Linked DNA regions of Homo sapiens: regions 2 and 3 are each linked to region 1. The links come from fine-mapping of genetic effects on gene expression. A gene starts in region 1. Each other region holds a variant in brackets. All regions are shown on one strand. Distances are between the middles of the regions. Region 1 holds the start of LYPD8 (LY6/PLAUR domain containing 8). Region 2 holds the start of OR2T2 (olfactory receptor family 2 subfamily T member 2). Region 3 holds the start of LOC124904577 (a long non-coding RNA gene).

Region 1 (8,180 bases):
GGAATTGCTGTGTCATGGGTAACTCTCTTAGAGGAACTGCCAAACTCTTTCCACAGTGGCTGCACCATTTTACATTCCTACCAGTAGTGTATGAAGGTTCCAATTTCTCCATATCCTTCCTAATGCTCGCAATTTTCCTTGCTTCCTTCTCTTTCTTTCTTTCTTTCTTTCTCTGTCTCTTTTTCTTTCTTTCTTTTTGATTTTATTTGTGTTAGTGGGCATGAAGTAGTATCTAATTGTGGTAGAAGTGTGTTCTGAGGCTGGACCTCACCTCAGACCATTGCCCTGTGCAGATGCGAATGTCCCTCTGGGCTGTGCAGTTGCCGATATGAGCTCAGAGAACAATGATAGCAGTAGTAGCCATTGTTTTTAGAGCCCTTTATGAAGTGATAGTTTCATCATCATTGTCGGCTTGTGCGACCTCCTTTGACCCTCAGAATAGCTACTCAGGCCGTAGTGCTGTTTTTGCCACTTGAAAGATGGGAAACCCAAGACTCGGGGGGATCATCATCTTACATAAGGCCATGGACTATTGGGGAAGTTTATCTTCCAGGATATGCTCATTTCCTCTGCAAGGTGACTGGGGGGCAGGAATGTTGGGGGCAATAATTCATTATTTTTAGCCTATTCTCACATCTCCAAGCGGGAGGAATGAGCTAGTCAATGAAAGGCTCCCAGAAGCAAACACAGAGAGAAGGCGGGTCAGGGGTGGATGCTCTTGATCCTTTTGCTGAGTCTTTGGCTTAGACTCCTGTTGGATATAATTCCTGCCCCAGCTTCCCTGACCTGACCCTACACACCTCCACATGCTTATTCCAAAATGGGGTAGGCTCCCCTGGAAACTCACCTCCAAGCTTTGCTGGTCATCAAGGGAAGCTTTGGGAAAAGGCCGTTTCCTAAAGTGGTTCCAGATTTACCACCGGATGACTCACTGGGACTCAGCTGAGCTCCAGGTTTGCCTCAGCTCAGCAGGCTGTAGGGACAGCCAACCTTGTCCCCTTCTAAGAAGATGATGGAACTAGGGTGCCTACGGTGTGCCCAGGGCTTCTTAGTTTAAAAGTTGGGCTGCTTGTTGCGACTTAGCTTCTCCTGGGTCTCTGGACTTCTTTGCTAGTCAGGAGGAGTCGGCTTTAGAGAGGTGCTTTTTCATAATTCCCTGTGACTGATTCAGGTCCTTGGACCCCACATTAATGACAGAGAGGTGAACCTCTGGGAGAGGGAGGAGTGGAGTCAAGTCGATGTCTCCAATCCTGCGGGTGGAGGCTGCGTCCCACCTGAGCCATGTTGAAATGGAAAGATTGCTGGCCCAGGCGTCTGAAGGCCTATAGGGAAGGCCTCCCTGGGCCTGTTTCCTTATCTGTCAAGGCAGCTGGGGGTACCCTTGGCGCACTGCCGGGGCTTCAAAAGGATGAACCCAGGACTGCTGTGAGCAGCCGTATAGACTGCGCAGCCTAGTTCAGGGGGCTTCCATTGTCTTCAGTGTCCTTACTGATAAATGGCTCAGTTAAAATCATACGTGCTATTAATAATAATTCCCACATGGTTAGACGTCCTCAGGACATTATTGATAGATAGATGGCCTTGGAAAAACACAGAGGAATGGGGTGATGATTCCAGGAGTAAATAAATCATCAGGAGGCATTTCTTCAGGGCCTGATGATTCCATTTTAAAGACAAAGAGCTCTGGCCCAACAAGTGCGGTTAATAAGTAACTTATGTGATGTGAGGGACAAAGTCTGGATTCAGACTCAGATCTTTGTGGTCGCTTTGGGTCCATTTGCCTGAGTATCTGGTGCCTTCTGAGAGGAATTAACATTGATCAGCCCGATTTTCTCATGCCAGTACTCAGCCTGACACCAGAGCTGTTATCTCAGAGGCAGTGTTCATGAGCTCTTTGGATCCTCCATCGGTGGCTCAGGGAGGCCACATTCCTGAAACCCGCAAGCCCACACACACCCCATTGGATATTACTGTGCCACTTCTCTTGTTGTGCCCTGCCAGGTGACTGACTAATGTGTGCTGGGAAACAATATGGTTCTGTTAGGGAGGAAGCTGCTTTTTTTTTTTTTTAGGAAAATGCTGTGATAAGCAGCCTGAAGGCAGATGGTGAGGAGAGGAGAGAATAAGAGATGGCCAGAGTCTCTGCTTATAAAAATAACTCAGATTTTGTCTTCTCCATGAGACCTACTACAACCTCCTCATTGAAAGTGGAAGCCTGCACCTGCTCACCCCCTAGCATGGTTGATGACTTATCCTACTCTTTGTCTTTTTGCCAGAGCAGTCACCACATTCTGACTTTCCCTGTGATTTGCTTATTTACCACTTTAATTTATGTTGTCTGTAGTCCTCTCTAGACTACACTCCAGGAGGGCAAAGGTCTTTGTCTTTTTGCTCACAAATACCTCCCGGTTTCCTACAGTAGGCCTAAGACAGGGAGGGTGCTCAAAAAATGTTTGTTGAATGAATGCATGAGTTTGGGGAAGGAAGAGAGAGCTGAGACACAGGTAGCGTAGCCATCCCCAAGGGGTATTTTCAAGAGCAGGGAACTGCAAGGTTTAAATGCAGGCTGGGGGATACTGGTATGATGTGTGCCCCTCAACCTCTGCATCCTCGGCTGAGTGGGCTCCTCCCACTCCCCACCGTGTGTGTATAAAGTGTCAGCACAGTGGAAAGATGAGGAGGGAAGATAACTCAAGTCCACACTCAAAACCAGGAGCACCCATGGCACAGTGTGAGGAGACTGGGAGAGTGTGAGGGTTAATATTGAGTGTCAACATGATTGGATTGAAAAGTATTGCAAAGTATTGTTCCTGGATGTGTCTGTGAGGGTGTTGCCAAAGGAGATTAACACTCGAGTCCGTGGACTGGCAGAGGCAGAGCCACCCTCAGTCTGGGTGGGCACCATCTGATCAGCTGCCAGCTCTGCTAGAATATAAAGCAGGCAGAAAAATGTCAAAAGGCTAGACTGGCCTAGCCTCCCAGCCTACATCTGGGTGGACATCATCTAATCAACTGCCAACACAGCTAGGATAAAAGCAGGCAGCAGAACGAGGAAGGACCAGACTGGCTGAGTCTCCCAGTCTCCATCTTTCTCCCATGCTGGATGCTTCCTTCCCTCAAACATCGGACTCCAAGTTCTTCGGCTTTGGGACTCTTGGGCCTACACCAGTGGTTTGCCAGGGGCTCTCAGGCCATCAGCCACAGACTGAAGGCTGCACTTTTGAGGTTTTGGGACTCAGACTGGCTTCCTTGGTCTTCAGGTCACAGACAGCCTATTGTGGGACTTCACCCTGTGATCATGTGAGTCAATACTCCTTAATGAACTCCCCTTCATACATATATAAACTCACCTTCTCTAGAGGACAGAGAACCTGACTAATACAGAGAGGCCTCAGTTGACCTGACCTGGGCTGTTACCAGTAGCTGCTCAGATCACTTGGCCAGAAAGACTCTCTCGATGGCTGCTGTGGGCTCTCACCCAGTGTGCAGAGCACACTGCAGGCAGGGGCTTCACGTCATGGTCCCTCTACCACACTATGAGGCTGCACAGTGAGTTTACACTCATCTTGGTTGGAGGACCCTCAAATCTAACAAGGTTAAGACACTTGCCTGTGGGAAACTGAGGCCCTTTCCTGAGTTGCACAGACCCCACATAGTCTGATTCGGAGCTCTGAGTTCTGACTGTGCCCCGGCTGTGTGCCCATGAGCATATCTCTTATGGCTCTCTTTCTGTGCTTTGGTTTTCTCATCTATAAATGGGCTAATCATGGTGACTGTTAGCAGGTTGTTAGGTGCTTGTCATTAGCAGGTCATGGAATTGACTTAGAAGGCCACAGACAATGCTGGAAGATACCTTACTCCTGTTTACATTTTGCCAAAGGCAGGCCTTGACCAAAGTTGTTCCCAATTCCTAGAGGTCTCAGAGAGGGCACGAGCTGCACAGATGCCAAAGGGTTGGGCAGCCTGTAGCTCTATTGGGCAGGGCACAGTCTGAGAGCCAGAAGCCTTAGCCTGTCTGACCCAGAGGTCCCACCCCAGAAGACAGCTGTGCTTTTTGATTTTACAGCCACCTGCTATATAAGGCCTCTCCCATACCAGCCCTAAGCCTCTACTGGGAACCACCTTCTGTAGGACAGTCACCAGGCCAGATCCAGAAGGTGAGAGGACTGCGAGGCCGGGGCCTGAGCCCTGGGAGAAGCTGAAACCGCAGGAAGGGCATTCAGGACCAGCTCAGGTCCTTCCCCGGCCAAGTCCAGGACATTCTTGCGGCTCTTGCTCCTTTGGCATTGCCCTAGGCAGTCGTATGCTCAGGAGAGGGAAGTCTGGAGTTCAGGGAGGATGTGGGCTGGGGATGTAGTTTTCTTGTTGTTTTGCCATCTGCTACTGTGTGTGTGGTTTGTGTGTAGTGTGTGCGTGTTCTGTGCATCATTCTGTGTGTGACATTCTTCATTCTGTGTGGTTTTGTGTCCTCACAGCCTCTCTAGGCTCCAGCTTTCTCTGTGGAAGATGACAGCAATTATAGCAGGACCCTGCCAGGCTGTCGAAAAGATTCCGCAATAAAACTTTGCCAGTGGGAAGTACCTAGTGAAACGGCCTAAGATGCCACTTCTTCTCATGTCCCAGGTGGGGGCCCTGCCTTGAGCCCCAGCTTCACTGGTCCCTCTTACCCACAGAGGTGTTGAGCACGGCCCTGGGTCCTGCTATGGGGTCACTCCCAGGCTCTGTTTCTCTGCTAGGTGNCCCTGGGTCAAGTCCTGACCTCTCTGGGCCTCCATCAATTCTCCCTGAAAATGAGGCTAGTTTCAGGTCTTCACCATAGGCTGAGGTGATCTGTGCACTTGATGGGCTGCTGGGGTCTCCTTCTCATCTCATCTCATCCTCTCCTTTCCCCTCCTCCATCACACTGTAAGACCTGAGAGGCCCTTTCCCAGAAGGCCATGGCCCTGAAACTCTTTTCCCACTGAGGAGAAAAGCAAGCAGCTGGGGTTCCAGGCCTGGAGGGGTGCACCCGGGCATGTAGGGGTGCACCGGGCCTGGAGGGGTGAGGGGCTGGCGCACGTCTGCTACAAGCTCCAGACCAGATGTGCTTTATTTTCCTCCTTGGATCTCTAAATGGTGGGGTCATTGGCATCATGTATGGGCCTCTTCTCCCAGACCGACTGGTTTCCCTTCCTTTTTACCAATCTCTAATAAGTCAACCAGGGTATCAGGGTAGGGTGTGTGGTGTTTGTGTGTGGTTTGTGTATTGTGTATATGGTTTGTGTGCATGTAATGTTTGTGGCATGTGGTATAAATGGCATGTGGGGTGTGTGTGTGTGAGGGTGTGTGATGTGTATGTGTCTCTGTGTGTGGAGGCATATGGTGCATGTGTGGTGTGTGTGATGTGTGTGTGATATGGTGTGTGTGGGGTTTGTTTGACGTGTGTGAGGTGTGTGGTGTATTGTGTGTGTGTTTGATGTGTGTGACAGGTGATGTGTGGCATGTGATGTGTCGTGTGTGTGGTATGTGGTGTGGTGCGTATGTGGTGTCTGTGATGTGATTTGCATGTGTGTAGTATGTGTGATGTATTTAGCGCATGGTGTGTTGTGTGTGTGATGTGTGTGACTTATGTGTGGGGTGTGTGTTTAATGTGTGTGGTGTGTTGTATGTGGCATTTAATGTGTGTTGTGTGTGTTCGGTGTGTACCTAATGTGTGTGACATGTGATGTGTGGTGTGTGTGAAGTGTGTGTGGTGTGGTGTATGTGTGGTGTGTGGTGTGGTATTTGTGTATGTGGTGTATGTGTGTGGTGTGGGGTGTGCTGTGTGGTGTTTGTGACATGTGATGTGTGGTGTGTGGTGTGTGATGTAGTGTATGTGCAGTGTGTATGTGATGTGTGGAGTGTGTGGTGTGTGTCATGTGATGTGTGTGACATGTGATGTTATGTGTTGTGTGTGTTGTGTGTATGTAGTATGTATGACATGTGATGTGTGGTGTGTGTGTGATGCATGGGGTGTGTGGTGTATGTGTCATGTGATGTGTGTGTGACATGTGATGTTATGTGGTGTGTGTGGTGTATGTGCTGTGTATGACATGTGATGTGTGGTGTGTGTGTGATGTGGTGTGTATGTGTTGTGTGGGGGCTGTGGTGTGTGTGGTGTGATGCGTGTGTGTGTGGGGTGTGTGGTGTGTGTGTGATGTGGTGTGTGTGTTGCGTGGGGTGTGTGGTGTGTGATGTATATGTGTGGTGTGTTGTGTGTGTTGTGTGGGGTGTGTGGTGTGTGTGTTGTGTTGTGTGTGTTGTGTGGGGTGTGTGTTGTGTGTGTGATGTGTTTTGTGTGATGTGGTGTGTTGTGTGGGGTGTGTGATGTGTGTGTTGTGTTGTGTGTTGTGTGATGTGTGTGTGATGTGGTGTGTTGTGTGGGGTGTGTGTTGTGTGTGTTGTGTTGTGTGTGTTGTGTGTGGTGTGTGGTGTGTGTGTGATGTGTATGTGTTGTGTGTGGTGTGTGGTGTGTATGTGATGTGTGTGTTGTGTGGTGTGTGTGGTGTGTGTGATGTGTTGTGTGTTGTGTGGGGTGTGTGGTGTGTGTGGTGTGTGTGTGTTGTGTGGTGTGTGTGTGATGCGGTGTGTGTTGTGTGGGGTGTGTGGTGTGTGTGTGTGGTGTGGTGTGTGTGTTGTGTGGGGTGTGATGTGGTGTGTGTGTGTGATGTGGTGTGTGTGGTGTGTGGGGTGTTTGTGTGTGGGGTGTGTGTGTTGTGTTGTGTGTGTTGTGTGTGGTGTGTGGTGTGTGTGTAGTGTGGTGTGGGGTGTGTGGGGTGTGTGGGGTGTGTGTGTGATGTGTGTGTGGTGTGTGGGGTGTGTGGTGTGTGTATGATGTGGTGTGTTTGTGTGTGTGTTGTGTTGTGTGTGTGTTGTGTGGGGTGTTTGGTGTGTGTGTGATGTGGTGTGTGTGTGATGTGGTGTGTTGGTGTGTGGGGTGTGTGTGATGTGTGTATGTGTTGTGTGGGGTGTGTGGTGTGTGTGTGGTGTGGTGTGTGTGTGTGGGGTGTGGTGTGTGTGATGTGATGTGTGTGTGTTGTGGGGTGTGGTGTGTGTGTGGTGTGTGTTGTGTGGGGTGTGTGGTGTGTGTGGGGTGTGTGGTGTGTGTGATGTGTGTGTGTTCAGTGGGGAGTGTGGTGTGTGTGTGTTGTGGGGTGTGGTGTGTGTGTGGTGTGGTGTGTGTGGTGTGTGTTGTGTGTTGTGTGGGGTGTGTGGTGTGTGTGTGTGATGTGTGTGGGGTGTGTGGGGTGTGTGGTGTGTGTGTGATGTGTGTGTTCATGATGTGGTGTGTTTGTGTTTGTGTGGTGTGGTGTGTGTGTGTTGTGTGGGNTGTTTGGTGTGTGTGGGGGGTGATGTGCATGTGTGTGGTGAGGTGGGAGTAGGGGCTTCCAGATGAAGGCGATTGTGTTTCAGTAAGTAGCAGCTATTGTGGTGCAACTAGGCTTTGGAGCTGGAAGGACCTGGAATAGAGCACTGGCTTTGGCCTTAGGAGCCGAGCGAGCTTGGGTTACTTCGTCGTCCCTCTGTGCTGCAGGTTTCTCACCTGTAGAGTGGGGCTAATAGCCTCTGCCGTACAGTACTGTCCACTGGGACTCTCCGCAATGATGGAAGTGTTCTGTGCCTGCGTTGGCCAATACAGCAGCCAACAGCCACATGTGGCTCCTGAGCATTGGGAATGTAGCCAGTGCTACTGAGAAACAGAATGTTTCATTTTATCTACCCTCGAAGAATCATAAATAACTATGTGTGCCTCACAGCGACCGTGTATAGGGTAAATGAGATAATGATTAAGAAGGGCTCAGGCCAGAGCCACACACCTGCTCTCTCCTGCTTTGATACACAAGCAAGTTGGAATTCTGGAAGTTCTAATTTCGAATTCTAATGAATATAACCAAACCTTAGCAATCCTCAAAGGCCTAACTCAGAGAATCTGCAGGCAGGGAATGCAAGGTGCAGAGACATTGGTGACACGCTATTTGGAAGTGCATGGGGGACTCTGATTTAGTGCTGCAGGTTGAGTGTGTCCAGGCTGAGGACTGTGGGAATAGTGGAAGGGAGTGTGGGCTGGCGGTTGGGGACACAGACGAAACTCCAGTTCTGATACCTCCCAGAAGTAAGACCTTGACTTTGAGTGCATTACCCAATCCTGCTAAGGCTTGATT
Region 2 (8,180 bases), 310 kb after region 1:
AAATAAGGTGCAAATGGGAGTTGTTTCAGTCAGAAAGTTACATGCTGAAATAAGGTACTTATGAAAGATCCACCTGGCAGTTTTAGTCTTGAAAGCAAGATTAATATTAATTGCTACTCATAAGTGTTCATAGCCACAGTGGGCTTTGGCCAGGAACTCCTTTTCTTCTTCTACCTACACAAGCTACTCCTGTACTCCGTCTGCTTTTATGAATGAACGCATTTGGACCTTGCTTCCTACATTAATCAGATTTTATCCCCTTCTCTCCACAGCAACGTAGTATCCAATGATGTGAATTTCTCTTTTCCCTTACCTTATCTCCAGTTCTAATTACATACTGCCTTAGTTACCACCCCCCTTTATCTGCCTATTTATTTAAATGGTAACTGTTTTCATTCATGGAAAAGTAGTCTACTTTCCCTCCCATCCCAACTGACAATTTGGAAATTTTCAGTGTGGAAAATTAGGCATAAGATAGAAGTTTTCTTGGCTTTAAAAAAAAAAAAAAAATCAGCACTATAATGGCATGTAGGTGAACATTTACTGAACACTTACTATGCCAGAAGTTAGTTCAGTTTGAAGAATACAGGTTTTAATGCTACATGCCAACTTACCTAAACTACATTGTCAAGGATATCACCAATGGACAAGAAAGAAAGAAGTACATCTGGTTTCCTGGAGCATTGAGAGTAAAAGGTCTAAATTCCAAGCTGCCAGCAGGAGGGCTGTGATGTGGATGTGCAGGGGAATGCTTCTGGGCAGCAGTGTCAGTTCGTGTGGTGGCAAATAGAAATCAAAGGATCTGGCATATGGCCCATCCAGTCCACCCTGCTAACGCTGTGGAAGAGGAAATGGAGAGTAAGGGAATGGAGGATTACACAGGAGCAGCAGAGGCGAGGTGAGGCGAGGCGAGCCCATCTAGTCCACCCTACTAATACTGTGGAAGAGGAAATGGAGAGTAAGGGCATGGAGGATTACACAGGAACAGCAGTGGTGAGGTGAGGTGAGCTGAAGCAAGGGGCAGACACCTGCAACTATAAACACAATGCACTCATTATTATACCCCTACAGCCTGAGCTTCCAACATGTCCACATCTCCCCCTGGGCTCCAGTTACTCAGCTCAACAGGCTTTTATATGCCATGCTAAGATGGCTTCTAGGAGACCTCTAATAGTTTTATTAAAAAAAAAGATCTTAAGGCACACGTGGATGCCTTATGGGTTCAATAAAAGAGGAAGGAGGTTAAAATGAAAAAAAAAAATCATGATTTCCCTCCAAGCATGAAGTCTTCAGCCACACCTAAATGCATATGAACGGAGCAATTAATCATTTAACTTAAAATGTAAATTAAAATTTTAACAAAATATTCAGAGGGCAATCTATGCTTATCCAATAGTATGCACCCCTGCTACCAATTAATTCTGAAACTTTCTCATTGTGAATACCAAGCACATTCTTCTAACTGTCGGCTCTTACATGCCATTTTCCTTCAGTAAATCTATTCATGTTCTTCTAAACTATTACATTTCCCTTAGCTTCCCACGTTTCATGCTAAATGCCCTTTTCCAGTTGTCTGCTTGCCAGATAGTGAATATATGTTATTTATGCTTAATCTTGAGAAGACCACTGCCTCAGTTATTAGCAGATAAGCTCACAGTAGTAACGTGGCCTTCTAATAGTTACAGAGTAATACCTGAAGAAAACATCCCAGTATCTGGGTGATGTTCTGTTTTTCATGAAGATCTAAGGATCCTACCTCAGAGAAGCTGGGTCCAAGTCTTTCTAAAGCAGTAGTGGAATGTCAGACTTCTTATTAAATACATTGTGTAGGGGTGAGGCTAGGTCAAAAAGTCTTTTCACTAATAGAGTCCCACATCCCCCAGGAAGAATTCCTGGGTTAGCAATTAATCCAAGTTGACTGGGTTTACCATGAACTTTAGAAGCAGCCTGTCCTTTCTTGCAGAGGGTGCATTGTTTTCCCAAGTGAAGGACTGGAATCGTTTCTTGGTATTTCATCATGAAAATGTCTTACTGAATCTTGGCATCTCTCCAGAGAGATTTTAAAGGCAGTGATGTGGGGATAAGAGCCTCGCTCTAAATTGAAAATTAGATTTTAAATTTCTTTAGAAATAGAGGCTATGACAAACTAAAAAAGCTCTTTCTCAAAAGTCACTGGCCTCTTGTTTGGGGAGAAATCTTTAAAGTTATAAATAAGTGTGAACCAAAAAGCATTGGAGCCAAGTCTCAATCAATGTAGATGTTTCTGGTGCCAAGGTTGAGGATGCACCTGGGAAAAAGGAACACAATATGACAGGAGCATCTGAGATTTGTGCTTCTTCCAAAGACGGTTGGGAGACTTCAATATTTAAAAGGGAAACAGTGGGCATTAGAGGAAAAAAAAGAAAAAGGAAGTGTGAATAAATGAAGTAGTTTCCTTCTTTGCAGGCTTTAATCAGTGTTGACTGAATTCGCACTTTAGATGTGACAGGAGAGGGTTTAGAGGAACACTCAACTGGGCGTTCATCTCCTGCTCAGTGAATCTGGATTGTATATAAGATAAGGTACACAGTAGAGGAAGCAGTCAAATATGCATTTGTTTCAGGGGAGTGGAGGGATGACTCCCAGGCCTGTCTTTGTCCACTGCCTGTCAAGATAAGCCATTCATTTACATTGTCAGCATGACAATTCAAGAGAATGGTTTTCGGGTAAAGATCTTTGGGCCAGCAAGGAATTTCCTTGCTAGCAGATTGTGAGGGAGGTCCCTTGGGGAGGTATGTAGCCTTCTACCTGTGTAGCTGTCCATTCCGGAACAGTATGGAATCTGTAGCCATACAGTCGGGAACAGATATGGAATATAGTTTTGCATGACAGAGTTCCCAAGCTTGACTTTTCCCTTTGGCTTAGTGAGTTTGGGTCCCAAGAGATTTTCCTTCTACTTTCTCCTATCTTCTATTTTCACAAAAGTGGCATTTGTCACTTAGGTTAAGTGTTTTTCAGAATTATTTGTCTTACGTGTACTACAGAAGAATATTGACCTCAGTAGGAATAAAGGAGACATAAGAAAAATGATGGAAATAACGCAATTGGTAGAGAAAAAAGTGAGGGTAATACAAGTTATGCATTTTCTAAAGTTTTCACCAGAGCACATTAAGATATTTAAACATTAGGAAAATTGAACTTCCTAACATTTATTTCTCTAATGGGGAAAAGAAGGTGGTCTTATTACTAAAGTTCTGCTTCCCAAACAACATCATTGAATGCTTTTCATGCATTAAGTCAGCTAATGGGCAACATTACTTATGATTGCTAGTCATCACAAATCCATTGGACACATACCTTATACCCTCTGTTGCAGATAAGCAGAAAACCCATACCCTTTTTCAGCCTTTAGAATGTTATTCAATAATTCCTGAATATTTTATATGTCATCCATAAATAAAGTTCTCCAACTAACTATTGGATTGATTGGATACACTCTTCCCTCTGGTGTGATGTGTCTTTCTCCAGAGCCACAAATGGGTTACAACCAATATTGATCCTCTCAACCCTGGATTGGTCTTCAGTGCCCGATTTGGCTACAGCCACAGGGGAGTTGATTTTGCTGTCAACAGCCACATCAGTTTTCCTCAAGGTGCCATATCACTAATTTTTATAGTTATGTCATGAAAGCGTTTGAGAAGTGCTGCTGTATCAGTTTGGAAAATTGTTAATACAAGCCCAACTTAAGGAAAAAACAGACCTGTGAACAGTGTATTGATTGGTATTAGTTTCTAACTCATGTTCATGTGTCACAATACTTTGTCTAGTGTTGAACTTAGTTATCTTATATAATTTAGACTTTTTACAAGAGGTATTTTGTGGTGTCTCAATCTTCCATGTTTCTTATTCACTTTTTCTCTTTTCCTTCCCTTTAACTCTCTTCAGGAAGTAATCCTTTTTATATCATCAGTAGGTATAGACTTGGTTGCTACAAGCCAAGACTGACTCCCACAGTTTGGAGTTTAGATTGTTTTAATTTCAGATAATTCTGCCTGCCCACTCTCACTCCATTCCAAAGTGCCACTTGACATTTTTGGGTGAATCTGTATTTGGCAAAACCTTGCTAGCTCCTATAAGACTTAATTTTTAAGTGTTCTATATTTCTAAAGATATTGGCCCTCTGCTCATGTCTCTGAAAAACAGACTATTAATCCATTTTCACACTGCTATAAAACACCCCAAACTGGGTAATTTATGAAGAGGTTAAGTGGGCTCAGTTCCACATGGCTGGGGAGGCCTCACAGCCAATGGTGGAAGGTGAAGGAGAAGCAAAGGCATGTCT[T/C]ACATGGCAGCAGGCAAGACTCATGTGCAGGGGAACCACCCTTTGTAAAACCATCAGATCTCGTGAGACTTATTCATCATGAGAACAGCATGGGAAAAACCCACCCCCAGGATTCAATTAACTCCCACCAGGCCCCTCCCACTACACATGGGGATTATAGGAGCTACAATTCAAGATGATATTTGGGTGGGGAAACAGCCAAACCATTATCAGAGACACATTCTAATAAGTTCTTAACTGGAGGTTCTGGCAAGAAAAATATGCTGAGATTGCCAAGATCTACAGTAAGAATGAATCTTCTTTGAAATTGTGTAGGAGGAAAAACACATTTGTGGTAATTTTGCTGTCACACCTCAAACTGCAAAACCTACAGCCACAGTGTGTGATAAGTGCTTAGGTAAGAAAGAAAACGTATTACATTTATGGTAGAAGATGAGCAAATATGTTGTGACTGACAGCAGTCAGGTTCTATAGTTCTATACTATGGTTTCAGGCTTCCCCCAAAAGACTTAGAACACAGCCTGAGGATAAGATGGTGACTGCTATATTTGAAATATAATATTTGAGTTGATTCTTTATAATGGTCAATGGACAGACTGTCTAAAGGGGAAAAGTCGAGAGAAGTCAGGGAAGTAGTTGAAGATGACCGTTTTTGCCATGACTGAGCAGAGCCAGAAACAGGCTAGTCCATGATTTTTAGTGGAATACACACCTTGTTAAGAGCTCATGGGTGACTACTAAACCTCAGCTTTATGCCTACCCCAGCCCAAACTGTTCATTGTTCAGAGCCTTCATACCTTTCAAAAAAATGAAATCCTTAAAAATCCCAGGCAGCTTTCCAAATCCCATAAATGCCCCACAGTTGCTGGCATGTGGGTCACTTGTTTCCAGGCAGAGAATATTTAAACTCAAGGGCAATGATAAAGTCTTGTATCCTTCATTTCAAGTCTCTAGCAGCATATGCAATTTGTTTAGAAAGTGGTTACCTTTCCTGAGGACACACACCTCCCAACAACCTTCTGTAGGGCCCCCGTGACATCCTTGTTCCTAAGGCTGTAAATGAGTGGATTGAGCATGGGAGTGAGGATGGTGTAGAAGGCAGATACAGCTTTGTCCTGCTCAGGGGTGTGGTAAGAATGAGGCAGCACGTATGTGTACATGGCAGCCCCATAGAAGAGGCTGACAACCACCATGTGTGAGGAGCAGGTGGCCACAGCCTTTCGCCTCCCCTCTGCCTCGCTCATCCTATAAACAGTAATGAGAATTCTTGTGTAAGAGCCCGAGATCACAGAGAAAGGGATGAGGAGCATCATAATACAGCAGACATACATGGCTGTCTCGTAGGCTGATGTGTCCGTGCAGGAGAGCTTCAGAAGGGCAGGCACCTCGCAGAAGAAGTGGTTGATCTCCCGAGAGGCACAGAAGGGGAACTGCATGGTGACGGGGGTGAGCAAGAAACCATCGATAGACCCTCCCAGCCAGGCTGCCGCCACAATCAACCAGCAGATCTTGCGGCTCATGAGGTCAGGATAGTGCAGAGGGTTGCAGATGGCTACGTAGCGATCACAGGACATGAGTCCTAGGAGGAAGAACTCAGCCCCTGCTAAGGTCAAGTAGAGGAAGTGTTGGGCAGTGCATCCAGCAAAGGAAATGGCTCTCTGGCTCATCACCTGGTCGACCAGCATTTTGGGCACAATGGTGGAAATATACAGGATGTCCCTGAGGGAGAGCTGGCTGAGCAGGAAGTACATGGGGGTGTGGAGGCGGGAGTCTATGTGGATGAGAATGATCTTGACCACGTTGCTGGCTATGGAGGTCACAAAGACCAGGAGAATGAGGGCAAAGAAGCCAGGGGAAACGGGCGTTGCTGAACAAACCCAGAAGGATAAAGTCGGCATACACGGAATAATTGCTCTGCTCCATAGCTCTGTAGGGTACACGAAAGAGATATGATAAAGTTGGAAAGGTATCTGATTTACATAAAACATTATGATGTAGTCATGAAACCAAGGTCAAAATCTTATTTCTTGAAGCTCATAATTTCCCTGAGAGAACTGCCTGAGCAGGATTGTGCTACATCTCATTATACCATCATTGTTCATTTAAGGATTTTCTTGATTTGGTGATTACTATTTAGAGTTCATGATCAAACAATCTTTTTGTTCATGACCATTTATTTCTGTCTTTCGAGTACCACCTTACATTGGTGAGGATGCATATAAGACATAAGAATGGAACCAGCCTGATTCAATAGGATAGGGTGGTGGGGAGGAAAGGAGGATTGTCCACATCCTACACTGCTCTCCTTATACTAGACTCTAGTTCTCACACTTAGAATCCAGTTTGAAGATCACCACGAGTATATATTTGCCTATGGAAGAATAACTGCATTATTTGACCTAATTTACACCATTCTTGACACACTTGTACATTGTAAAATTTGAGTGCTCAACTTACATGTATCAGGTGGAGTATTGCAGAATGAGCCTGTGTTGAATAAAAAGAGCTGAGTTCTGAGAAGTCATCCAAGAATTCATAGGAGGAAAAATCATGGGAGAAAACGTTGAGGGTCAAGTGGTGTTTGCTTTCCTTCTTGCAGCAGCAAACTACCGATTATTAACATACAACTCGTTAAAATGTTAGAATCCCATTTAACTTATGAAAAAATAAACTAGTTTAAGTATTAGAGCTAGTGTATCCCAAAAGAAGGGATCTCTCAAACTTGAAGTTAGATTCTGCATATGTATCCATATCAGTTAAATATTTTACCACAATTTAGGACCACTTATGAGTTATTTGGATAGCTTCTCCCTGCATCATATAGATCTGCACTATCCAGGGTGGTAGCCATGAGGCTTATGAAGCTGTGGAGCCCCTGAAACACGACTGCTCCAAATCAAGATGTGCCATCAGCACAAAGTTAACAATTCAAACACCTGTTAAAAATATATGCAACACGTCTTCTTAAAACTTTATATTATGGTAACTTTTAGATATATTTGGATAATATAGATTAAAATTAGTTTCACCTATTCTTTACATTTTTAATGTGGTTACTAGAAAATTTAGAATTCTCTGTGGCTCCCCTAGGATTTCTACTAGGCAGCACTGGTTAGAGTTATTCCTGGGAATATGACAGCTCCAATTACCTTCATCCAAACAAGTCCTCCAGAATTAAACACCACAAATTAGAATTGAGCCAAAAAATTTAGGTGTGTACCAAATTAGAAAAATGGCTTTACTTGTATATGCATTCACCTGCAAATAGCAGTAAGAACATTAATAACTGATTCGTAAATTTTACATTTCCAAACAACTGTGTAAGATACTAGACCATTCTACAGTTGAAAATGAGGCTTAAGGAAACTTCCCCAAGGAGGAACATTGTTCTTTAAACAGTGACAGTATAATTTGTTCTATGCTGTTTTCCAACAGGACAAAGTAGACATCAATTCATTCCGTAAATATTTCCCGAGAGGCACATTGGGTAAGCCAAAGTTTGATATTCTGAAAGACCCTGAAAGAATGTAAGACATCATCTGTCTTCGAGCCTAGAATTGAGGCACATGAACGTGTGTTGTGTGACCACAGGTGCACTTTCAGAATGGTTTTAAGACCTCAGCAGTTTTGACTTACTTGGTATGTGAACAAAGGACAATAAAAATGATGGAAGCTGCAGCCCACTGGCTGGTAGACAGGAACTTCACACCAGGGCCCCTCAGTACATTCCACCACAACCATGCCACAGTGGATGGATGGAAAACGATGAAAATTCAGATTTTTACTGATGAAACCCACATTATATCCTTATGCATTTTTCAGTTCTCATTCTTGAAATATTACCAGCTTTATGCCAGGG
Region 3 (8,180 bases), 50 kb before region 1:
GAGCACTCACTGTGCCTTTGGATGGGTGCTGTCCAGGAGTTTGAGATTGCCTTCCCTGACTTGGCAGATGGGTGTCATAATATTTTATTACTAGAAAAGCTGCTATGAAAATGCATAGCATATGTTTTTGGGTGAGTGGGCTTTTTAAATTTTTTAAATTGTATGTATAGGAGGTGAACAACATGGTATTTTGATGCACATAATGAAATAGGTATCAAATTGGCCTATCATTTTGCAGTTACCTCCCCCCTTTTTTGTTGTGAAACCGCCTAAAATCTACTCTCAGCAAATTTTCAGTCTATAATACAGTATTATAGTCCTAATGAAGGGCTTTCTGAGATGACACACAGTGCTGGACTTCCCTACCCAGTCACTGGCAGGCAGGACCTGTGAGGCTCCTGGTACAGAAGAGCCCTAGAAAAGAAGGGCTATGCCATGCACGTGCGTTTCTCCTTGCAAAATCACCTAGAAGATGCGGCAGGCGGGAAGAGAGACCAGGAAGGTTAGAGCCAATGGTACTTCTAAGGAGAAGAAGACAGAAGCCGAAGAGCTCCCTCCCTCCCACCCTCGTTGTAGTAACTTGTACTCATCCAGTGCATTTCACGTACCAGGAACGCCCCTAATTAATCTCTACAACAATGTTATAGGACAGATAAACACTATGATTTCCTTTCCACGGTAAGAAAATAAGGCACAATGGGGGGTACTCAGCCTTGCTGAAGGTAACGGAGGCGGCTCCCACTAGGCACTTGGACTCTAGAGTCCAAACGCTTGAACCACTGGGCTCACAGGAACAGGAGGTGAGGAAGTGGAGGTAGTCATCTCCGAGGAAGTTTTGCTGGGAAGAAGAGATGAGAAGTGGGAATACTGTTTCTTAGCTCCTTCTCCCAGCAAAGAGGGTCGAGAAATTTTGTTTAAGGTGAGGAAGAGATGGTCAAGGTGTGGGGGACATAGGGCCCCATCCCCCATTCCTGTACTGTGTCATGTTACATGTTACATTGGCCTGTTGGTAATGAATTGTTCTGATCTTCATCTTCCTCAAGTGTGGGGCTGGGGCCTCAGTCTACCCAACACCTGACACAGGCTCTCACCAACAGATGCTCAGGAAATGTGCTTTTGCTTCTTGCCCCTTCTCTTAGCCCACAGCTGTATCAGGTGGGTTTATCAGTACAGCAGTTTGGAGGTCAGGACCTGGTGATGCACAATCCCAGGATCACATCTCTATGGGAATTCTCAAATTTCATGACGCTTCAATTTTATCGCCTATAAAATGGGAGCATAGAGGCATGTGTGGCATGCTGCTACATCAGTGGATCTGAGGTGCAGCGATTCCTGTTAGCACCTCTTCACAGCCTCGGAGTGCTTAACTCACGGAGGCTTCATCCCATCTTGCGCTAGGCAAGTGGACTCTATGAAAGGGTTGTGTTTCCCTCCTCATCTGGATATGATTTTTGACAAGCATGACAACCCCACTGCCTTTTTAAAAATTTAATTTTTAATATTTATTTTATTATGAGACAGGGTTTTGCGCTGTTGCTCAGACTGGAGTGCAGTGGTGCAATCATAACTCACTGCGGCGTGGGACTCCTGGGCTCGAGCAATCTTTCTGTCTCAGCTTCCCTAGTAGCTACGACCACAGATGCACACCACCATACCCCGCTAATTTTTAACTTAATTTTTTTTTTCTCTGTAGAGATGTATTGCAGTGTTGCCCAAAATGGTTTTGAACTCTTGGACTTAAGCAGTCCTCCCTCCTTGACCTAAAGTGCTGGGATTACAGGCTTGAACCACTGCTCTTTGCCTTTTTTTTTGTTTGTTTTTGTGACACTCGTTCTAGCCCAGGCTGGAGTGCAGTGATGTGATCTTGGCTCACTGCAACCTCGACCTTCTCGGCTCAAGAGATCCTCCCACCTCAGCCTACCAAGTAGCTGGGACTACAGGTGTGTCCCACCATGCCCAGCTAATTTTTGGATTATTTTGGAGGCGGGGTTTCCCTGTGTTGCCCAGGGTGGTCTTAAACTCCTGGGCTCAAACGATCCCCCTACCTCGGCCTCCCAAATTGCTGGGATTACAGGCATGAGCCACCATGCCTGGTTATGCTTCCAGCCTTTAGACATCTTTTAAAATTGACATATTGTAATTGTACGTATTTGTGGGGTGTGGAATCAACCCATCTGTAGATGCTCCTACTCTGCCTGGCAGGAAGAGCGGAGATGACCTTCTTGGGCTGTCAAGGTCTTGCTGTGTCAGCAGGGGGCAGCAGCTACCAGAAAGTGCGCAGAGCCTGGGCTCTGCATTTCCCTGCGCGCACTGCGTGTTGACCCTCCAAGCCTGCGTGGTCAGCCTCATGGGCACTTTGCAGAAGGGCCTGAAAAACTGCACATAGAAGGGTGGGGGTGTGTATACATCAGAATGGAACCCTATTTGTACTTGTCATGGGCCTCTTGCATTCCCGTGTGTCCTCGGAATCACCTATTGCGTGTGAGAGCTGGCTCAAGTCTGCAGCGCAGCTGGTCTCAGGAGGTAAGATGTTCGATATGTAGATGTACCCTGTTCTCCTCAGAGCTCACCTCCTTCCTTGGCCTCCCTAGTGTCTTTTCCCTCTCCCTTTCCACAGCCTCTTTATAAATTTCTCCACCCACGCCTGCTCACCATTCCTGAGCCCCAGGCTGCAACACATTGCTCATGCCCTGGGATAAGGGAACCAGGAGACCATACACTGGCTGGCAAATGGATATGTGTAGTTTACTAAGAAATGTTCACCAGGATCTTTCAGTGTACAAACACTGTGGTAGGCCTTGTTAGGAACACTATAAACTGTAATGCCATGGGTGGGTCTTCCAGGTAAGGAATGCAGGTGTGCACAGGTGGTGCAGGGCAGTGAAAAATACATAACCAGGCCAGGAGCAATGGCTCACAGCTGTAATCCCAATGCTTTGGAAGGCCAAGGTGGGAGGCTCACTTGAGGACCAAGTTTGAGGCCAGCCTCAGCATCATAGTGAGAACCCGACTCTACAAAAAGTAAAAAAATTAGCAATGCGTGATGGCATGCACCTGTAGTCCTAGCTACTCCTGAGGCTAGTGGGAGGATCTCCTGAGCCCAGGAGTTTGAGGCTGCAGTGAGCTATGATCACACCACTATTTCAGAATGGGTGACAGAGGGACAACCTATTTCTAAAAATAAGTAAATAAATAACTAATGAGGGCTGCAGTCAAGGAAAAATCTGGGAGGTTACAGCTGGGCATTGCTCTCCGAAGCTCTGAACCAGCCCCTTGGTCTCAGACTGGAGAAGTGGTGCCTGGCTCCCAATCCTCACTCTTCCCAAATCTGTCTTGAGCTCCCAGGGCCTGTGTCTCACCCATCTTGGTGTTCTCAGGACCTGGAATGTGGAAATTTTCACCAAACAGCTGTCTACTGACTTACTTCTGCTTGTGCTACCCTTGGCACAAGTTTCCTCCCTTCTCAAACTGTCAAACTGCTGCCTGTGGTTTGAGGACCAGATCATGTGGTCAAAAGTCCACATGAGCTGGGATTCAACCACAGGCACCTCTCTAGCCCAGTCTGAATTAATCCTTATCACTCTCAAGTTCCCCATGGCTCTTTTGACTTACTGAAGAATGGGCCGGTTGTTGTAGACATGTCTCTTGTTGGTCCTAAGTCCTCAGAAGAAGGGGTCAGTATCATCCTTGACTCCATCTCACTCAACACATAACACAATAGACATATGTACAGGGACCATACGTGATGCATAGTCTAAATTGGGACAGCTGAGTGTGAAAGGGGGCAGGTGTGGCCTGGGACTGACTTGGGTGATCTAGGACATATGGTCACCCTCATTCTAGGTGCTCAGTAAACATTAGTTCTTTTGAGAGCTTCGGTGTTAAAAACACTGACCACACTATTCAGAGAGGGTTGCCCTTGGCCTGCCCCTGCCACAAGGGGTTATGTGCACAGGGACAATTCACTCAGCTCCTCTGGGCCTCAGTGTTCCAATCTGCCGGAAGTGTGGACAGACTCAGTAGATAACCTCTAAGGTTATCTAAAGCACTAAAATTATACAGCTGGCAGTGGAGGCTGGGCCATGCGAAGAGTTCTGATGGATGATGTGAAATGGTGCATGTGTTTGCAGACAGGGTTAGGGGTTGGAGCATGAGAAACCTGAGCAAGTCCAGAGTTGGTTAGGACCCAGCCCGGAGGGAGCAGAGGGCTGCTGGATATTTCTGCTTGGGTGTGAGATGATCATCGTCCAGAGGTCGAAGAGCTCAGAGTGCTGGGCAGTAGTTTCTCTT[T/C]CTCCAGGCAGGCAGGTGGCTTTCACTGCACAGTGCAGATACGCTTCTTGATTTATTCAAACATAGGAGGAAGGGAGTGTCAAAATGAGTTTCTTCCCCATTTAGAAAAGAGGAACCTTCTTGGTCTAGGGTAGAGTGGAGCAGCAGAGCTGCCTTCTTCCTCAGCTGCGGCTTCATCTTCCATGCTCCTTCCAGGCCACCCCATCCTGTTTCGTCTCTATGATTTCTGCAATAACATGCAGAAGAGCTGGATCATCTTCACACTGACACAAGGAAATCTCAGTTGTGCCACGGCCTGCTTTTTTCCAGCAGGAATTCTTAAGGGCCTGGGGGCCTGGGGCAGCAGTGAAGGCTGGAGGAGGCTCATGGAGCTGTACAGGTTCGCAGGGGCTGCTGTGGTTTAGGGAAGAAGGAGAGGATGTTGCTTAATGTCACCTGCCTTGTGTGCTAACCTCAGTGTTGCTATGGTTTCAGCCTCCCACTCCACTTGGAGAGAGAGGCCAGGAGCCCACCTGCCTCTGCAGCCCACCTGCCTCTGCAGCCCAGGGTGGGAATGTAACCGTTGCTGCTGTACTCACATCTGACCTTCCTTCAGCTGATCTTCGCCCCTTTTACCAGATCTCCTCTTTCACTTTACAATTTCAGAAGCCTCAGATTACAATCCTCTCCATTCCCTCAAACAGTTGCATCTGGCAATAGTGACCATGGCTGCCCCATTGGAAGGGACTGTTAACAGAAAAGGGCATGAGGCCTTAGGAGGAGGGGAGCTACGTCTTCATAACACTAACAAAAACAAACCCGAGGTTAAATAAAGTGAACCAGGTATTTAGTTCACCTGCCACCTGGGATATACTTTTTAATTTTTTCTGGGTTGGTTAAAAATATATTTAGGGCCGGGCACGGTGGCTCACGCCTGTAATCCCAGCACTTTGGGAGGCTGAGGCGGGCGGATTACCTGAGCTCAGGAGTTGGCAACCAGCCTGGGCAACATGGCGAAACCCCTTCTCCACTAAAATACAAGAAATTAGCCGGGCTTGGTGGCGTCCACCTGTAGCCCCAGCTACTCAGGAGGCTGAGGGAGGAGAATGGCGTGAACCTGGGAGGCGGAGCTTGCAGTGAGCTGAGATCGCGCCACTGCACTCCAGCCTGGGTGACAGAGTGAGACTCCGTCTCAAAAAAAAAAATGTATATACATACATATGTATATATATTTAACGACACTTTCAGAGAGAATGTGACAGAGATAAAAGCTGAATAAGAATGACAGGAAAACTGATCTGGAAGCATAAATGATGAGGATGAGAGAAAACATCTGCAGCTAGACAAACCCAAAAGACTTGGAGAAAGTGACAAAAGTGAAGCAGCAGAGACGAGGAGAGACGTGAAAATACACGCTGGAGGGAGGGACATCAGAGACGAGAAGAGGAAAGCCTCATAGGTGACTGGGACATCAGAGATGAGAAGAGGAAAACCTCGTAGGTGACTGGGACATCAGAGATAAGAAGAGGAAGGCCTTGTAGGTGACCGGGACATCAGAGACAAGAAGAGGAAGGCCTCGTAGGTGACCAGGACATCAGAGACAAGAAGAGGAAAGCCTCGTAGGTGACCGGGACATCAGAGACGAGAAGAGGAAGGCCTCGTAGGTGACCAGGACATCAGAGACGAGAAGAGGAAAGCCTCGTAGGTGACCAGGACATCAGAGATGAGAAGAGGAAAGCCTCGTAGGTGACCGGGACATCAGAGACGAGAAGAGGAAGGCCTCGTAGGTGACTGGGACATCAGAGATGAGAAGAGGAAAGCCTCGTAGGTGACCGGGACATCAGAGACAAGAAGAGGAAAGCCTCGTAGGTGACCGGGACATCAGAGATAAGAAGAGGAAGGCCTCGTAGGTGACCGGGACATCAGAGATGAGAAGAGGAAAGCCTCGTAGGTGACTGGGACATCAGAGACAAGAAGAGGAAAGCATCGTAGGTGACCGGGACATCAGAGATAAGAAGAGGAAAGCCTCGTAGGTGACCGGGACATCAGAGATGAGAAGAGGAAAGCCTCGTAGGTGACCGGGACATCAGAGATGAGAAGAGGAAAGCCTCGTAGGTGACCGGGACATCAGAGATGAGAAGAGGAGAGCCTCGTAGGTGACCGGGACATCAGAGACAAGAAGAGGAAGGCCTCGTAGGTGACCGGGACATCAGAGATGAGAAGAGGAGAGCCTCGTAGGTGACCGGGACATCAGAGACAAGAAGAGGAAGGCCTCGTAGGTGACCGGGACATCAGAGATGAGAAGAGGAGAGCCTCGTAGGTGACCGGGACATCAGAGACAAGAAGAGGAAAGCATCGTAGGTGACCGGGACATCAGAGATGAGAAGAGGAAAGCCTCGTAGGTGACCGGGACATCAGAGATGAGAAGAGGAAAGCCTCGTAGGTGACCGGGACATCAGAGACAAGAAGAGGAATGCCTCGTAGGTGACCGGGCTGGTAGCACAAATGATACTCATACGTGCCAGGACTCTAGCTGAGCCCGAGTTAGATTTACAGCCCTCCTTATCTTGACCTATCTCCAAGTTCCTAGGTGAAGTGGCTGTTCCCAGTGCTGCCTGAATCCTTCAGCTGACTGCCGGCCAGAGGTTTATGGCTCTGATCAGGAAGATCACTGATGAGTCTTGTTTCAGACAGGTCCCACCCTCTGTTGGCTCCAACAGTGTTTGATATCCAACAATAGGAAACCAGATTCTGTGAGTGAACTCAAGCTATAGGCAGGACCCGTGGAAGGCACAGGGGAAAGGAGTTGTCTTCCCAGGAAATCTTGGATTTCCCCCTGGAAGTAGGTATCCTATGTACCAGGTGGGAGAGGACTGAGGAGAATGTGCCTTAGGACATGGCTGAGAGCCTCTCTACAGCTCTGCACCATTAATTCCGTGTGGATTTGTGTACCTGGAGCCCAGGGAAAACTAAAGCCCCTCTAATCAAAATGGTGTTTCTTTCTCGAGGTCCTGCTGGTTGTGAGAGATTTATGCTTCTGTGTGGGATATGTTCTTTCACCTATAAACATCAAAATCCCACAGTGAAATGGGAACAGAAAAATGTTTATTCCCCACCCAACCTTCATCTTAAACATGGTTCAATAGGAAGGTATCACTCAGAGACCCTGGCCCAGGGAGGATCCTTCTATGACTCTAGTTCCTAAAATGTGTTCTCTAGATCAACAATATAAACATCACCAGAAACTTGTTAGACATGCAAATTCTCAGCCCCCTACCTCCACTCCTCTGCCCACAGCAATACTGCATTAGAAATGCTGGGAGTGGACCCCAGCAGCTTTCAACAAACCCCTAGAGTGATTCTAGTGTACCCTGGAGTTTGAGAACCTCATCTTTCCGGCAGGTGGAAGGGATGTGGCAAACAGTGCACAGGGGTCCCAAGACTTGTCCCTTCACTCACCTTTCACTGGCCAAAGCAAGTCACCTGGCCTTGCTCCCCCATTGCCTTCTGCCATGATTGGATGCTTCCTGAGGCCTCCGCAGAAGCAGAAACCACTATGCTTCCTGTATAGCCTGCAGAACTACGAGCCAATTAAAACTCTTTTCTTTATAAATGACCCAGTCTCAGGTATTTCTTTATAGCAATGTGAGAACAGACTCTTGAAATATTTGCACACCCATATTGAAGCAGTATTATTCACAATAGTTAAGAGGTAAAAGCAACCCAAATGTCAATTGACAGATAAATGGACAAACAAAATACGTTATATACAATTGAATATTATTTAACGTTAAAAAGGAAGGAAATTCTGACATATGCTACAACATAGACTATCCTTGAGGACATTTTGCTAAGTGAAACAAGCCAGTCGCAAAAGAACAAATACTGTATGATTACACTTACATAAGGTA

The links.
Region 2: its variant is fine-mapped to the expression of LYPD8 in nucleus accumbens (GTEx, PIP above 0.99).
Region 3: its variant is fine-mapped to the expression of LYPD8 in whole blood (TOPMed, PIP above 0.99).

Annotation. Positions count from the first base shown.
Region 1 is chr1:248,751,682-248,759,861 of GRCh38, reverse strand. LYPD8 (LY6/PLAUR domain containing 8) reads left to right here and starts at 4,103. Exons shown (of 7, transcript NM_001085474.2): 1 at 4,103-4,157; 2 at 4,476-4,623.
Region 2 is chr1:248,439,246-248,447,425 of GRCh38, reverse strand. It overlaps OR2T2 (olfactory receptor family 2 subfamily T member 2), which reads right to left and starts at 1,789. Exons shown (of 4, transcript NM_001004136.2): 1 at 1,757-1,789; 2 at 615-837. It also overlaps the pseudogene OR2T7. The variant T/C (reference allele first, on the strand shown) is at 4,322.
Region 3 is chr1:248,801,392-248,809,571 of GRCh38, reverse strand. It overlaps LOC124904577 (a long non-coding RNA gene), which reads left to right and starts at 2,054. Exons shown (of 2, transcript XR_007067008.1): 1 at 2,054-2,523. RefSeq lists enhancers at 4,110-4,319, 5,728-6,927. The variant T/C (reference allele first, on the strand shown) is at 4,291.